4 linked regions of the Homo sapiens genome follow. The protein of the gene in region 1 interacts with the protein of each later gene in a pairwise test. Each region holds a gene or a part of one and is shown in the gene's direction. Other genes may lie near its edges.

Region 1 (3,500 bases):
GATTTTGAATAGGGGTGATAGGATATTCTTGCCTTGTACGTCATCTTAGGAAAGAAGCATTCAGTCTTCTATCATTAAGTATGATGTTAGCTGTGTGTTTTTTGTAGATGCCCCTAATCTGGTTCAGGATGTTCCTTTTTATTCCTGTTTTGTTGAGGGTTTATTATTATTATTACTGTTATGAACAGATGTTGAATTTTGTCAAAAGGCTTTTCTGCATTTATTGAAGAGATAATTTTTTTTTTCTTCTTTAGTCTGTTGTTACGGTAGGTGATGTTGACTGATTTGCAAATAATGAGCCAGCCTTCCATTCCTAGAATAAGTGTCTATTGGCTGTGAAGTATTATCCTTTTTATATATTGCTGAATGCAATTTGCTATTTTTTTGTTTAGGATTTTCGTGTCTTTGTTTATGAGGGATATTGGTCTGTTCTTTTATTTTAACATCTTTATCTAGTTTTGGTGTCAGTGTAATTCTGGCCTCATAAAAAAAAGTTGACTTATTTCCTCCTTTTCTGTTTTCTGGAAGACTTGTTTAAAATTTCTATTATTTCTGTTCTAATTTTTTGATAGAATTTGACAATGAAGCTCTCTGAAATGTTATACATTGCATGACTGTTTACCTTTAAATAATAATCCGCTGCTTCAGGTATAGTGTAAGTACCTTAAAACAGTGTTTTCCCATCTATTGATCATATTTATTTCAGATTCTTTTTCTGAAATTCCTGTATTATTATTCCAGGTTATCTGTGTGTCTGCTTCTGTTGATTGTCACTTGACAATGAGCCTTTTGTTTCCTTTGCCTTCTTTTGTTTGTTTGTTTGTTTGTTTGTTTGTTTGTTTTTGAGACAGAGTCTCACTTTGTTGCCCAGGCTGGAGTGCAGTGGCGCAATCTCAGCTCACTGCAACCTCTGCTTCCTGGGTTCAAGGGATTCTCCTGCCTCAGCCTCCTGAGTACCTGGGATTACAGGCGTGCGCCACCACACCCAGCTAATTGTTATATTTTTAGTAGAGATGGGGTTTCACTATGTTGGCCAGGCTGTTCTCAAACTCCTGACCTCGTGATCCGCCCGCCTTGGCCTCCCAAAGTGCTGGGATTACAGGTGTGAGCCACTGCGCCTGGCCTCCATTGCCTCTTCATTGTAATTTTTGATTTCAGTGTTGGACATTGTGTGGAGGGCAGTAGGCAAGGTCAAAAAACTTTTTCTGTAATGGGCCAAATAAATATTTTGAGTTTTGAGAGCCACGTGTAGTCCCTGTTGCATGTTATTCTTCTGGTTTTTACTTTTAAAAAATTACCCTTAAAAAATGTAAAACCTGGCAGGCTGCAATGGTTCATGCCTCTAATTCTGGCCCTTTGGGAGACTGAGGTGGAAGGATTGCTTGAGCCCAGGGGTTTGATACCAGCCTGGGCAGTGTGGTGAGACACCGTCTCTACAAAAAAATGTGAAAAATTAACTGGGCGTGGCCACATGTTCTGTGGTCCCTCTTTCTTGGGAGGCCGAGGTGGGAGGATGGCTTGAGCCCAGGAGATTGAGACTGCAGTGAGCCATGATTGTACCAGAGTACTCCAGCCTGGGAGACAGAGCAAGACCCTGTCTCCAAAAGGAGGAGGAGGAGGGGGGGGGGAGGAGGAGGTGGTGGAGGAGGAGAGGAGGGGGGGGGAGGAGGAGGAGGAGGAGGAGGAAAGAAGAAGAAGAAGAAGAAAAAAAAAGTAAAACCATTCTTAGCTTGCAGGCTGTACAGAAACGGGTCATGGGCTACCTTTGGCCTCTGGGCCATGCGTACCCTCTCTGTAGAGGGGAATGAGGTGGGTAGATAGTGTTATATTCAGGAATGGCCACTCCTCTTTTTCCGCTGGGTTTTCATTGTTGGGGAGTTAAGGTGGGTCTGGGTTTTGTTGTTGTGTATGTACCTTCCATCCCACTGGCTTCAAATTCCTCTAACCTTTCCTTGAGCTTAGGATGAGGGCTGAGTTGCCAAAGCGTCTTCACCCATGGCTTTTGGCCTTGCCTCTGTGTCTGCCTTAGCTGCCCCTTATCTTTGGCAGGTCTCTACTAGAGAAAGTTCCCCTCCCTTCCCCCAAAGTAGGAGGACTCTAACAGGCTGGCTTAAGATGGCTCCTGGACCCTCCCTGAGGGCTAGAGCAGATTGCCTTTTATCTTCCCTGGCCACAGCAGTCTTCTGATTCTGTAGGTGAGAAGCTTCTTGTTAGGGCTTAGTGCTGTGGCAGCTCCCACTGAGAGACTGTTCAGTCTGCTCTTTCAGTCTACATCTTAAAAGGTTTTTTTTTAATTTTTTTATTTGTTAAGTAAATGTGCTAAGAAAGAGGTGCTGATTTTGAGCCTGGTTCCAGTTGCAGTACCCAGTCAAGGAGTGAATTTACGGCATCGTAAAGGCTGCCAGTAGAGAGGAATGGTAAGGAAAGTTGGCTCCACTCTGGTGATGGATTGAAGCTTCCAGTGGGTTTGTCTAGCTATTTTTTAGTGGTTGCTACAATGTATGCAAGGCTACCAGATTCTATAAGTCCTGGGGCCATTCCCATGGAAAATAAACAACGTGAATTTTATATACCCAGTGACATTGTGTAAACTCAGTGGCCCTGATAAGTGCTGTATCTGTATGTGGTCCCTGAGGGATTTGCTGCAATTGGAGTGAAAAAGAAGTAATACTTTTTAAAACAATCTTATAAGTGGACAGAATGCTACTGTCGACAAAGAGTCAAACTCTGCAAAATATTTGAAGAGATTTGTTCTGAGCCAAATATGAGTGAGGTCCTGAGAACATGTGCCCAAGGTAGTTGGGTGCGGCTTGGCTTTATACATTTTAGAGAGGTGTGAGACATCAATCAAAAACATTTAAGAAATACATTGGTTTGGTCCAGAAAAGTGGGACAAAGCTGGGGGGCGTGGGGCTTCCAGGCTATAGGTGAATTTAAACATTTTCTGATTGATAAAGACCTGGGATTGATAGAAAGGGAATGTTCAGGTTAAGGTAAAGATTGTGGACATCCAAGTTCTTTTGAAGTCTTATGGTGGCTGCCTTAGAGACAATAGATGACAGATGTTTCCTATTCAGATCTTAGTTAATCTCTTTAGGATTAGGAGGGTCTCGAAGAAAAAGATCTAGCTATGTTAGTAGAGATTCTTTACAAATGCAGATTTTCCCCCACAAAGAACAGCTTTGCAGGGCCATTTCAAAATATGGCAAAGAAACATATTTTGGGGTAAAGTATTTTTATTTTCTTTCTTGTCTCATAATGTTATGCCAGAGTCAGGTTGGAAAGTCATGATATATAGGGTTAAATAAAACCCATCTGATGAGAATTTGTGATTTGTAGGACATGACTCCCCAGACCCCTTAGATAGGAATTTGGGCAAGATAAAAAAAATCAGAGTTTAGTCCTCACTAGCAAACAGAGAAAGCCCTCATCTTTCTAGTTTAACACTTTAAAATTGTATGACTGTAATATTTGAAGATGATGGTTATTAGACTATTGAG
Region 2 (4,083 bases), on another chromosome or scaffold:
CTCTTTGAACACGTTCCTGCCTACCCTGGGCTCTGGAGGGCTTCCGACTGTCTCTGTTATGGCGTTTGTCCCCCCGTGCCACCATGTCTGCTGGGAGGTGCCCGTTTTCCGTGCCTCTCTGCGCTGGGTCCCCCATAGACGCTGGGCTGGGGTCTGTGGAGAGGGTGGAAGTCCCCGTTCTGGACTCTAGGATCGACATCCTGCTTGAATGTTTGGAAGAGGGTCCCAGCTGAATTAAATTCAAAAAGAGGCTTTCAAGGAAGAAGGAGGTGTCATCTTTGCAAAATTAACGACCCCCAATCCACGCAACCCCTACGCCATCCCAAGGCCGGCGCCCTGCGAGGTGGCGGGAGGCCAGGGTCCCGGGTTTACCCTCGGGTGACTGCCCAACGCGGGCTGGGATACAAGCGGACCCTCGGAAGGGTTCCTTTTGCAGACTGGCGCAGTAAGGACCCCATGCCGGGAAAGGTTGGGAGGTGGGGGACCCAGGCCAAAGCGCCAAGTATCGCGAGAGACCCCCTGCCCCCGCGCAGTGCCCTAAACCCCCCTCACACCCCAGCGCCCCTGCTGGCTGCGCGCGGGGCCCGGCCGGGTGGGGCGGACAGGGAAGGGGGGGCGAGGGTGACCTCAGCGGTTCCGCCGCTCCGGGAAGTCGCTCGGCCCGCCCCCTCCGGCCCCCGCCCCGAGTTTCGCTCTCTCTGGGGCGGGGCGAGCGGCGGGCGGCGCTGGGCCAGCCAAGTTGGAGCGCGCCCCGCCCGGCGCCCTCGCCGTCCCCGCGCCCTCCCCGCCGGGGCGCGCTGCCCGCAGCTCCACGCGCGCCAGGGCCGCCCTGGGGAGGGCGCGCGCGCGAGCGGCGACCGGAGAGGAGCTCGGGGCGGCGGAGGTGAGCGCTGGGGGTGGGCTCCCGGCTCTGCCCGCCCCGCCCGCCCGCCGGCCCTCTCCCCGCTCCCCGCGGCCGCGCTGCCATAAATGGGGCCGGCGGCGGCGGCATCTGGTGGGCCGGGCGGCAGCTGGAGGCGGCGCGGAGGCGTGGGGCGGGTGGCGGCGCAGCCACCCGGGCGTCGGGGACGCCGCGAGCGGGCGGCCGCCCGGGAGTGAAGTTCAGGAGCGCCCGGGCGGGGACGCGCGCAGGTTTGCGCGGCTCCGGCTCCTGCGCCTGAGTCCCGGGACCCGCCCCCGCGGCGGAGCTGCTACTGTTTACTTTCGATCGAGTTTTTCCTGCTCGGGGCAGGTGCCCGCGGCGGCTCTGGACGGGAGGTTGCGCGCGTCACTCCCGCGCCGCTCTTTCCGCGCTGCCTGCAGCCGGGAAGGGCGCTTCGTGGGCGCCTCCAGGCGCGCTGACGGGCGTCCCGTTTGTGCCCAGGTGATGACGGCGGCGGCATGGAGTTCCCTGAGCACGGCGGACGGCTGCTGGGCCGCCTGAGACAGCAGCGCGAGCTGGGCTTCCTATGCGACTGCACCGTGCTGGTGGGCGACGCGCGCTTCCCGGCCCACCGTGCCGTGCTGGCCGCGTGCAGCGTCTACTTCCATCTCTTCTACAGGGACCGGCCCGCGGGCAGTCGCGACACGGTGCGGCTCAACGGCGACATCGTCACGGCGCCCGCCTTCGGCCGCCTACTGGACTTCATGTACGAGGGCCGCCTGGACCTGCGCAGCCTGCCTGTGGAGGACGTCCTGGCAGCCGCCAGCTACCTGCACATGTATGACATCGTCAAGGTCTGCAAGGGCAGGCTCCAGGAGAAGGATCGAAGTCTGGACCCGGGGAACCCTGCCCCTGGGGCAGAACCTGCTCAGCCACCGTGCCCCTGGCCTGTCTGGACCGCGGACCTCTGCCCAGCTGCCCGAAAGGCCAAGCTCCCCCCGTTTGGGGTCAAGGCTGCCCTCCCTCCTCGAGCATCTGGGCCTCCTCCCTGCCAGGTCCCAGAAGAGTCAGACCAGGCCCTGGACCTGTCGTTGAAGTCTGGCCCAAGGCAGGAGCGGGTCCACCCACCGTGCGTCCTCCAGACACCCCTCTGCAGCCAGAGGCAGCCAGGGGCCCAGCCACTGGTGAAGGACGAACGGGACTCACTGTCCGAACAGGAGGAGAGCAGCAGCTCTAGGAGCCCCCACAGTCCCCCGAAGCCACCTCCTGTTCCTGCAGCCAAGGGCCTGGTGGTGGGCTTGCAGCCGCTGCCCCTCAGCGGAGAGGGCAGCCGGGAGCTGGAGCTTGGTGCAGGGCGACTGGCGAGTGAGGACGAGCTGGGGCCTGGTGGGCCCCTCTGCATCTGCCCGTTGTGCAGCAAGCTGTTTCCCAGCTCCCACGTGCTGCAGCTGCACCTCAGTGCCCACTTCCGTGAGCGAGACAGCACCCGGGCCCGGCTCTCACCCGACGGCGTGGCACCCACCTGCCCGCTCTGTGGGAAGACCTTCTCGTGCACATACACACTGAAGAGGCACGAGCGGACACACTCGGGTGAGAAGCCCTATACGTGTGTGCAGTGTGGCAAAAGTTTTCAGTACTCCCACAACCTGAGCCGGCACACCGTAGTGCACACTCGAGAGAAGCCGCATGCCTGCCGGTGGTGTGAGCGCCGTTTCACGCAGTCCGGGGACCTCTACCGCCACGTCCGCAAGTTTCACTGTGGCCTCGTCAAGTCCCTTCTGGTGTGATGCATCCCTGTGGGTCCTGAGGGTGGGGTGGAAGGGAAGGGATGGGCCCTCCCAGGTGGGACACAGCATGGGGTGTGAAGCCTGACCAGGTGGAGGTCCCTGCTTGGGCCAGATGGCTCCACCCTCCTGGCAGAGAGAATGCTGCCTCTTCCTGGAACTTGGCCTCAGACTCGGTAACTTGGGCAGCCTTCCTCCCACCTTGCCTCTCCTTTCCCCTCACTCTCCAACTCATTCCGGCCCCCAGGCTGTGCCCTGCCTAGGCTGTGACACTATCTTCCTCTCCCGTCCCCTCCAGCCAAGTTCTGAGGGGTGTCCAACCAGCACCTGGCTCTGCCCCCGTTTCTCCGTGTGAGATGGCACATCCATCTCCCGGCCCGGGACTTTCCTGACCACCTCTCTGGCAGGCTTGGGGAGGTCTTCATGAGCCTGGCCCCACGCTAGGTGAATTATTCACATGTCAGAAAAGTTGTTGGTGTGCGTCCCAATGGGGCGCTGGGAGGGAACAGGACACTCCTGGGGAGCGGCAGCAGGAACCCCTGCCAGGAAGGCCTGGGGCACAGTGAGTGCCAGCAGGGGCCATCTGGGCACAGCTGGTGTCTCGGGGTGGGGGGGGGGGTGCAGCCCCAGCAGGGATCCTAAGGCAGCAGGAGTAGAGCCAGCTAGAAGCTGAGTGGCTGTGGCATCATTGTCACTCGGGTGGGACGTGGGTCCATGAGAGCGTGCAATTATGACCACACTGTAACTTTGAGCAGAGAAAGTGGGAATTTGGAACTGGATTCTCTTTAGAGCCAGGAAGAGCCTCCTGAGGCGGCCAGATGTCTGCTGGTGGCCGCCCAGCCACATGCTTGTCTGCCTGAGTGCAGGTCTAGGAAGCCTCTGGGCATCCCCCAGGGTGGGGTCTGGGCCGCTGAGCTGTGTGCTGCTGCTGGGCCACCGTGGGCCTTACCTTGACGGTCACTCTGCCTGCTAGGGGGTTTCCCTGGAGCTGTGGGCATTTCCGTGCACTGACTGAGCAGAGGCAAGGGCTGCCCTGTCCGCCAGGGGCAGGGTTTGCGGGCCTTCCTTTCCCCACGGCGAGGCATGGGTGAAAGTGGCCATGGCGGCAGGGTTAGGGGCAGGTGAGGAGTGGGAGTCGCAGCACCCTAGGGGCCTCCATCCGCAGCCTTGGGAGACTGACGCTCCTCGAACATGAATAGAATGTGGAGACCACAACCCCCACACATGTCGTTGGTTCAGGTCGCCCTGCTTTGCCTGCCTAATGGAGCACATCTTGCTGCCAGAACCTCACTGGCCTCTGGGGGTCGGCAGGTGCAGAGCCACCTGGACGCCTGGAGACCACCTGGGATGTTTCCTCTGTGACTGGGAATGGCCTTGACAACAGAGTCCAGCCAAGTCTACGTTATTTTCTCATCTCCTGACAACACTGGATGTCAT
Region 3 (3,500 bases), on another chromosome or scaffold:
GTTCTTAGGAAAACAGTCCTGCTTGATTCGAGGAGACGGGGGTATTTCTTCATATACTTGGAAATGCACATGGTGGCATCTGGCCTCATTGGGCATCAGCATATCCCTGTGTTCACCTGCTCACTGCCTTCCCCCTGTAGGGTAACACGTGCCATCAGTGTCGACAAAAGACCATCGACACCAAGACAGTGTGTCGGAACCAGGGTTGCTGTGGTGTGCGAGGACAGTTCTGTGGACCATGCCTGCGGAACCGCTATGGGGAGGATGTCAGATCGGCATTGCTGGACCCGGTAGGAACAGTGTTTGCATTTGTTGTAAATTGTATTGGTGAAGGAAGCAAGCTATAAAGATGGGCCTCCTGGGTTCTCACTGGGAACTAGGGAGCTCCAGAACTCTGGTTTTTCCCTTCCATTTGTATCTTAAGGCTCCAGGGAAAATGAAAAATAGGGATTCCTTCTGGAAGGAGAGCAAGCTGACCAGTGAATAGAAGAATTAATGTTGTTAGATTTTCCATTGTCAGAGCAAAACTTGCTTACAGTCCTCTAGTTTTATGCAAGTAATCCCTGTACCTGTCCTTCAGCAAAGTGATTTCCCTCTGATTTGTTTTGTTTTTCCTGGGCCAGGCTGAGAGGGAGGTGGAGATTGCAGTATAGAGTGCTCTCTGTGTGCCTGGCACTGTGCAAGCTGTCGCTCACTCTGTTACCATAAATTTGTTTAATCCCATGAAATAGGTGTATAACCTCTCTCAGCTCCCTCGGTAAAATGAGACATAGTATCATGGTGAGTAGGCACGACCTTGAGCCTGGGGCAGTCCTGCTCCCGAGTGTGACCTCTTAGGCAGCAGTCATGGGGTAAATATATGGTCCTCAACTGACAGACAAACAAACTGCTGCTCAGGTTAGTCATTCAACAATAAGCACACATTGAAAGGGCTGAAATTCATACCTTGATATTTTGGAAACCTTGTGCTCCTAAACCAGGGCTGACATCCTGGGCCTGTGACCTGCATGCTCGCACAGGGCCCTGTGCTTGGCCAAATGCTTGTGAAAATCTCCATAATTTTTAAGCAAGGAGCCCTAAAAGGTGTCATTTTTCAGTGTTTGCATGTGACGTGGGGTGATTCAGCCTTCCTGCCTTGTGAGGAGCCCCCTGGGACGTAGACTGAAAGATGCCATGTGATTAAAGGTTGGAGGAGAGGCCAGCTGAGCCATTCTGGATCCGAATCCCAGTTCTTGCCAGACCCTGTAGATAATGAGCGAAGTGTCTGCTGTCATCTCTCTGTTAGGATTGGGTGTGTCCCCCCTGTCGTGGGATCTGCAATTGCAGCTACTGTCGGAAGCGTGACGGCCGCTGTGCCACAGGAATCCTCATTCATCTGGCCAAGTTTTATGGTTATGACAATGTTAAGGAATATCTGGAGAGGTAAGTAAGTCTCTAGCAGCTTACAAAACAGCTTGAAATCTTGAGGCTGAGCACAGGAGACCCTCTGGGCAAGTAGTTGTTGCCTTCCCGTGTGACTTACTTACTTATATAAACCACGAGTACCATCCATTCTGTATCTGTTTGCATTGGAAAAGCTCAGGCCTGATATTTTCCCTATTAGGGAATCTTCTCCTTTGCTAGATTTTTCAACTCAACTCCACGTTGCCTTTAACCAAAATTTCTCCTTGAGGTGTATGACAGAAATGGAAGGAACAAACAAACAAGGCAGGCTGAGGGGAAAGACACAGATTATGAAGAGGCAGCCATAATCCTAGTGCAGAGAGAGAGTTCAGGGCAAGAGGACAGAATGTGAGTTACAAGTTTCATTTATGTAATTAATAAACTCTGAATCGTGGTTCTGGAATGCGGGAGTGAGGCAAGTCATGCTTGGGGCGTACTACACCAGAGGGTATACGGATATTGATGCATAAATTGTCAGGATTTCGAGTGTCAGGAGATCTGGGTTCTGGCTTTGTACTCTTAGATGATTGTGGAATCTCTCAAGCCTAGAATGCCATTTGTGTATTTGTACTACTTTACCAAATACTTCTCATCTTTTTCCCAGCTTACAAAAGGAGCTGGTAGAAGACAATTAAGAGGAAAACAAACAGAACCAGCCACCTCACCATAGAGTACTCCAACAAGACATGCATACCATTGGTGCCTAAGAAAGATTTTTTTACAGTTGTGTTTTTATACAGAAATTCTTTGTAGAAATTACTATTTTTTGTTAAAGATTGTTTATATGCTTACAAAGATTTCTCAGGAAGACAGCAGAGCAGAGGAATCTATATAGATGTATGCACAGACCTGTCTGTATGCTGAACTTTGTTAAAAATATCTGCCAGTTATTAAAAAGCACAGTTTAAATGGGGTGGGGTTAAAGTTCAGGTAAGTAAGTTAGAGAGAAAACATTGTATGATCAGCTCCTGCACTTGATCTATCTATCTTTGGCTTCCCAAACAGTAACTCACTCCAGGCCAAGTGTGCCTTAGCACGAGTGACCACAGTTTAATAGACCACACACATCGTTTAACCTGCTCTTGGTCATTGGAAATTTACACTGAACAAAGTGCAATTAACTGTAGAACAGTTTTATTTTTATTAAAACTTGACTGAACAAAAGGGGACCATCAACATTGTAGACACTGGACACTGGAGGCCTTACAGAGTGCTAGCCTCTTCCTTCAGGACTCACCTGGGGCCTGCTGCTTTTATATTTTGAAAGAGTTTAAGGGCTAATAATTTAATTTGTTGTTTGTTAAAAATTAAAATCTCCGTTCTTTCCGGCTGCATTGCTTTTGCATGTTCACATATGATGTACTTTTATGATGTACTTTTTTTTTTTTGAGATGGAGTCTTGTTCTGTTGCCCAGGAGGGAGTGCAGTGGTGCAACCTCGGCTCACTGCAACCTTTGCCTCCTAGGTTCAAGTGATTCTCCTACCTCCTGAGTAACTGGGATTACAGTCGTGTGCCACCACGCTCAGCCCTGAGTTAGTTTCTAGTATTTTTTTCTGACTTTCACTCTAAGGATAGCGTTGAAAAAAGAATGCACGTGTGAGTTACTAAAAAGTTAGAATAATGTGCATGGGAACAGTGCAGCAACATGCTAGAAAATCCTCACTGCACTCCAGCAGAGGCTAGAGGAATGCCAGTGTTACCTTACGCTTCTAGAAGCAGAGCCACTCCAGCCAGAACCCATTTTGCAGTCTTCTCTTCGCTCTTCAGCCTGAAGGTCCAGATGTAGCTGGGGCCTCTCAGTTTGGTTCTATACACAGGGCACTCGTAGGTCTGTTTGGTTTCTTGTCTGTCCACGGGGGTGGCTTTTGCAAAGATGACCGGCATAGGGCATGCCAGCTCCTTGAGACGGGCTTCAACAATGGTTCCTGCTTGGGTGTCCCAGCGGGCGCCTATGGCAAAAACACAGCGGTTGCAATTGTGTGGCAGCTTGCTACTAATGATAATGATCAAGTAAGTTGTTTGATGCAATAAACATTCAACATTCTGGTTTTGTCAT
Region 4 (3,500 bases), on another chromosome or scaffold:
ATGCAGAGGCTTTCCTCCTTCCCAAAAGGTTTGTTATCTTTAAATTTGGAAGTTAATTCATGAAAGAAACGTGTATTATTTATAAAAAAATTTTTTTAGCATCTAGTAGAAAATATGTTATTTAAAAATGGTATTTATGCTTCCATGGAGTCAATGTGCATAGGTCCCCTGTAATCCTAAAGTCATCCCTATACAATAATGAGAACTTCTCTGTCAGGGAGGAAGGGGATTTTAGTCCTGAGTGTTTTCATCATTCATTTCTCCCTAGTTTGGAGAAATGTCTAGTTAGTTTAAGGACTGAATATTGAATTTTTCTGCTTAAAGAATATTGGTTCATCTTCTACCTAAGAAGTAGAGAGTTGCTAAAATAGTTGATTATTTATTTTATTTATTCAGCCACACTTTTGCTATTTATTACTTCCAAAATTGACTTTACTGGATATATAATACACGCATCTATTTATTGTTGTTTTGATAAACTTTTCATTTTGGAAAAATGTTATGTTCACTTTTGATGTTGCACATTTTATAGATTTTAACAAATGTATAATGACAGGTGTCCGCCATTATAGTATTGAGCAGAGTAGTTTCACAGCCTTAAAAATCCTGTGCTTCACCCTTGCATCCCTCCCTTCCCTCTTGCCCCAGGCAAGCACTTATTTTCTTACTGTCTCCATAGATTTGTCTTTTCCAGTATGTCATACCGTTTTAAAGAAAAAACTTATTCATGACATTTGTTGAAGAACAGTAAGGCAGATTTTATTCAGAGGGACTACTACAGTAGGGTTTTGCAGTCAAGAAAGAGATTGGGTTTGACTCCTAATATTAAGACAACAAGGAAGAGTGGGCATTTATAGGCAAGGAGCAAAATAAGGGAGTTGGTGGGTGGAAAATTACTAAGAGGAAACATCAGGGGTGGAGCGTGGGGATTCTGGCTAAACTGACCGAACAGGATTCTTCTGAAGGCAGGACAGGGTGATCAGCTGTCACCTGGGGGATGGTAGAGGATGAGGAACCTGATCAGATGTTGAGAGTGGAGGATTCCAGCTAGAGCACCTTAGCAGGAGAGTCTTGCAAAAATTGGGCAATGCAGAGATGGACACGGAAGTGCAAAAGTTGAGGCCTTAAAGGGAAGAAGATTCAAAGGAATTTGGCTGAAGTTTGGTTAAGGATAAACTGTCAGAATCACACAGTGTGTAGCCTTTTCAGATTGGCTTCTTTCACCTAGCAATATGCGTTTAAGGTTCCGCTATGTCTTTTCATGGCTTGATAGCTCATTTCTTTTTGGTACTGAATAATATTTCATTGTCTGGATATACCACAGTTTATGTATCTATAAACTGTGTCCTACTAAAGGACATTTTGCTTGCTTCCAAATTTGAGCAATTATGAATAAAGCTGCTACAGACGTCTCTGCACAGGTTTTTGTGTGAATGAAAGTTTTGGGGAATAATTTTATATTTATAAAAAAGTTCCCAGTATAGTACAGAACTTTCCCTTATACCCTTTACCTGGTTTCTCATTGTGTTAACATCTTATGTGAATGCAGTAACATCTTACTGGTGTGTTGTCCAAACTAAGAGATTGACAATTATTTATTGTTATTATTATTCTTAGACTTTATTTTGATTTCACCAGTATTTCCATTAATTTTCTTTTTCTGTTTCATGATCCAATCCAGGATACCACCTTGTTATTAGTACAATGTTAATTTTAATTTATAGGAGTAGTTTGGTTATGTTGACTTATTAAATATGTTTATAAGACACAGCATATCCTGAGAAAATGAGTGTCAACCTAACAGTTATCAGGAGGCAGTGTTACTTAATGAAATGGACTCATTTAATTATAATGTTATTTAGAATTTTTTTCAAGTTTGTTTTTGTTAGAGGGTCAGATTTCCCCATGTACAGCAAACAGTAACATAAGATTTGTTTTATAAGGTTGCTGTTTCTAAACCAAATACTAAAGCTTGTTGAAAGAAGGTCATTTTAAAGTTGAGCATTTCAAGACCCAGGAGAAAACTGGTTGCAGAGTTGTAATAAAAGCTGTCAGTGCCTAATTTTTCAAGTTGGTGCAAAGGATGAAGTGTCCGGGTAGTTCTCTAATGAGCATCTCCAAATGTTTTGCTGGCAGAAGGACTCCATGAAAGATGACAGAAGAAGTTATTGTGATAGCCAAGTGGGACTACACCGCCCAGCAGGACCAGGAGCTGGACATCAAGAAGAACGAGCGGCTGTGGTTGCTGGACGACTCCAAGACGTGGTGGCGGGTGAGGAACGCGGCCAACAGGACGGGCTATGTACCGTCCAACTACGTGGAGCGGAAGAACAGCCTGAAGAAGGGCTCCCTCGTGAAGAACCTGAAGGACACACTAGGTGAGTGTTTCACCCTCGAGAGAGGAAGCCTTGTGCATTTCAAGGGACACTGTTCGTCTTTCTAGTTAGTTTGCTGTTTCAAAAAAAAAAAAGTCTGTTTTAAAAGTTAATATCTTCCTAGTTGTCTTTTTTAATAATCTAAGAATTAAGAGATGAAGATGGAGAAAGAGGATGTTTTTCATTTCCTGGAGATTCTGGAGTTTGGGGTCCTGTGTATGGAGACACTTTGTGTGCTTGGGACCCCTGCACAGGTATCTCCTTGTATCAAAACGTTAGAGGAGCCTGACTTGGAATTCTCACCTCTAAGTCTACCCAGCTCTGCCAGTGTCGTGACATGAAGTTCTTTCTCTCTTATACAATCCTGTCCATTTGGCCTACGTGCCTAGAGCAGGGGACAGCCAAAGCACTTTTTCCCTCTCTGAAATGGATGCTACATCACACCACAGTCCTGGGTGCCGTTAGCTAAGAGGGCAGCTTTGTGACATCAGAGGCCGCTCCATGGTGGGGGCCTAGTTCAGCCATACTGTTGTCCCCATGTGCCTCTTTTTTTTTTTTTTTTTTTTGAGACGGAGTCTCACACTCTTGCCCAGGCTGGAGTGCAGTGGCACGATCTTGCCTCACTGCAAGCTCCACCTCCTGGGTTCACACCATTCTCCTGCCTCAGCCTCCCGAGTAGCTGGGACTACAGGCACCCACCACCACATCCGGCTAATTTTTTGTATTTTTAGTAGAGATGGGGTTTCACTGTGTTAGCCAGGATGATCTCGATCTCTTGACCTTGTGATCCGCCCACCTTGGCCTCCCAAAGTGCTGGGATTACAGGCGTGAGCCACCGTGCCCGGCTCCCCATGTGCCTCTTGTTTTCCCAGGTGTTGTCAGGTTATGGGCAGTGCCCTCCTGGAGTTACACAAAGTTAACAGTATCCAGTCTTGCCTTTACATGCACACGGAACTGACTTACAGTATTTACTGCCTCAGATTACCTGAGAAAATAATTGCGAGGACTTTTTTGAAGAATGACTCATCTGAGCTGACATTTAAAACGTTGTTACCTTCTTATGAGTATAATGTTGTCTGTATCCAAGACTGCAGGTTATCACTTAAGGGTTTGCTAGTGAAATGA

What was found.
Region 2: the proteins of HSF2BP (region 1) and ZBTB42 interact in binary tests that used the Homo sapiens proteins (3 or more experiments, as listed by UniProt).
Region 3: the proteins of HSF2BP (region 1) and CDCA7L interact in binary tests that used the Homo sapiens proteins (3 or more experiments, as listed by UniProt).
Region 4: the proteins of HSF2BP (region 1) and NCK2 interact in binary tests that used the Homo sapiens proteins (3 or more experiments, as listed by UniProt).

The regions. Positions count from the first base shown.
Region 1 is NC_000021.9:43,530,489-43,533,988, reverse strand, and holds part of HSF2BP (heat shock factor 2-binding protein), read left to right. Parts: intron 1-3,500. UniProt on the Homo sapiens protein: Meiotic recombination factor component of recombination bridges involved in meiotic double-strand break repair.
Region 2 is NC_000014.9:104,799,818-104,803,900, forward strand, and holds the start of ZBTB42 (zinc finger and BTB domain-containing protein 42), read left to right. Parts: upstream 1-1,283; 5' UTR 1,284-1,380; coding exon 1,381-2,649; 3' UTR 2,650-4,083. UniProt on the Homo sapiens protein: Transcriptional repressor. Specifically binds DNA and probably acts by recruiting chromatin remodeling multiprotein complexes.
Region 3 is NC_000007.14:21,900,900-21,904,399, reverse strand, and holds part of CDCA7L (cell division cycle-associated 7-like protein), read left to right. Parts: intron 1-140; coding exon 141-290; intron 291-1,285; coding exon 1,286-1,422; intron 1,423-2,047; coding exon 2,048-2,078; 3' UTR 2,079-3,145; coding exon of another isoform or gene 3,146-3,393; 3' UTR 3,394-3,500. Other genes in the region: DNAH11 (dynein axonemal heavy chain 11), read right to left, coding at 3,146-3,393. UniProt on the Homo sapiens protein: Plays a role in transcriptional regulation as a repressor that inhibits monoamine oxidase A (MAOA) activity and gene expression by binding to the promoter.
Region 4 is NC_000002.12:105,852,912-105,856,411, forward strand, and holds part of NCK2 (cytoplasmic protein NCK2), read left to right. Parts: intron 1-2,136; 5' UTR 2,137-2,152; coding exon 2,153-2,378; intron 2,379-3,500. UniProt on the Homo sapiens protein: Adapter protein which associates with tyrosine-phosphorylated growth factor receptors or their cellular substrates. Maintains low levels of EIF2S1 phosphorylation by promoting its dephosphorylation by PP1.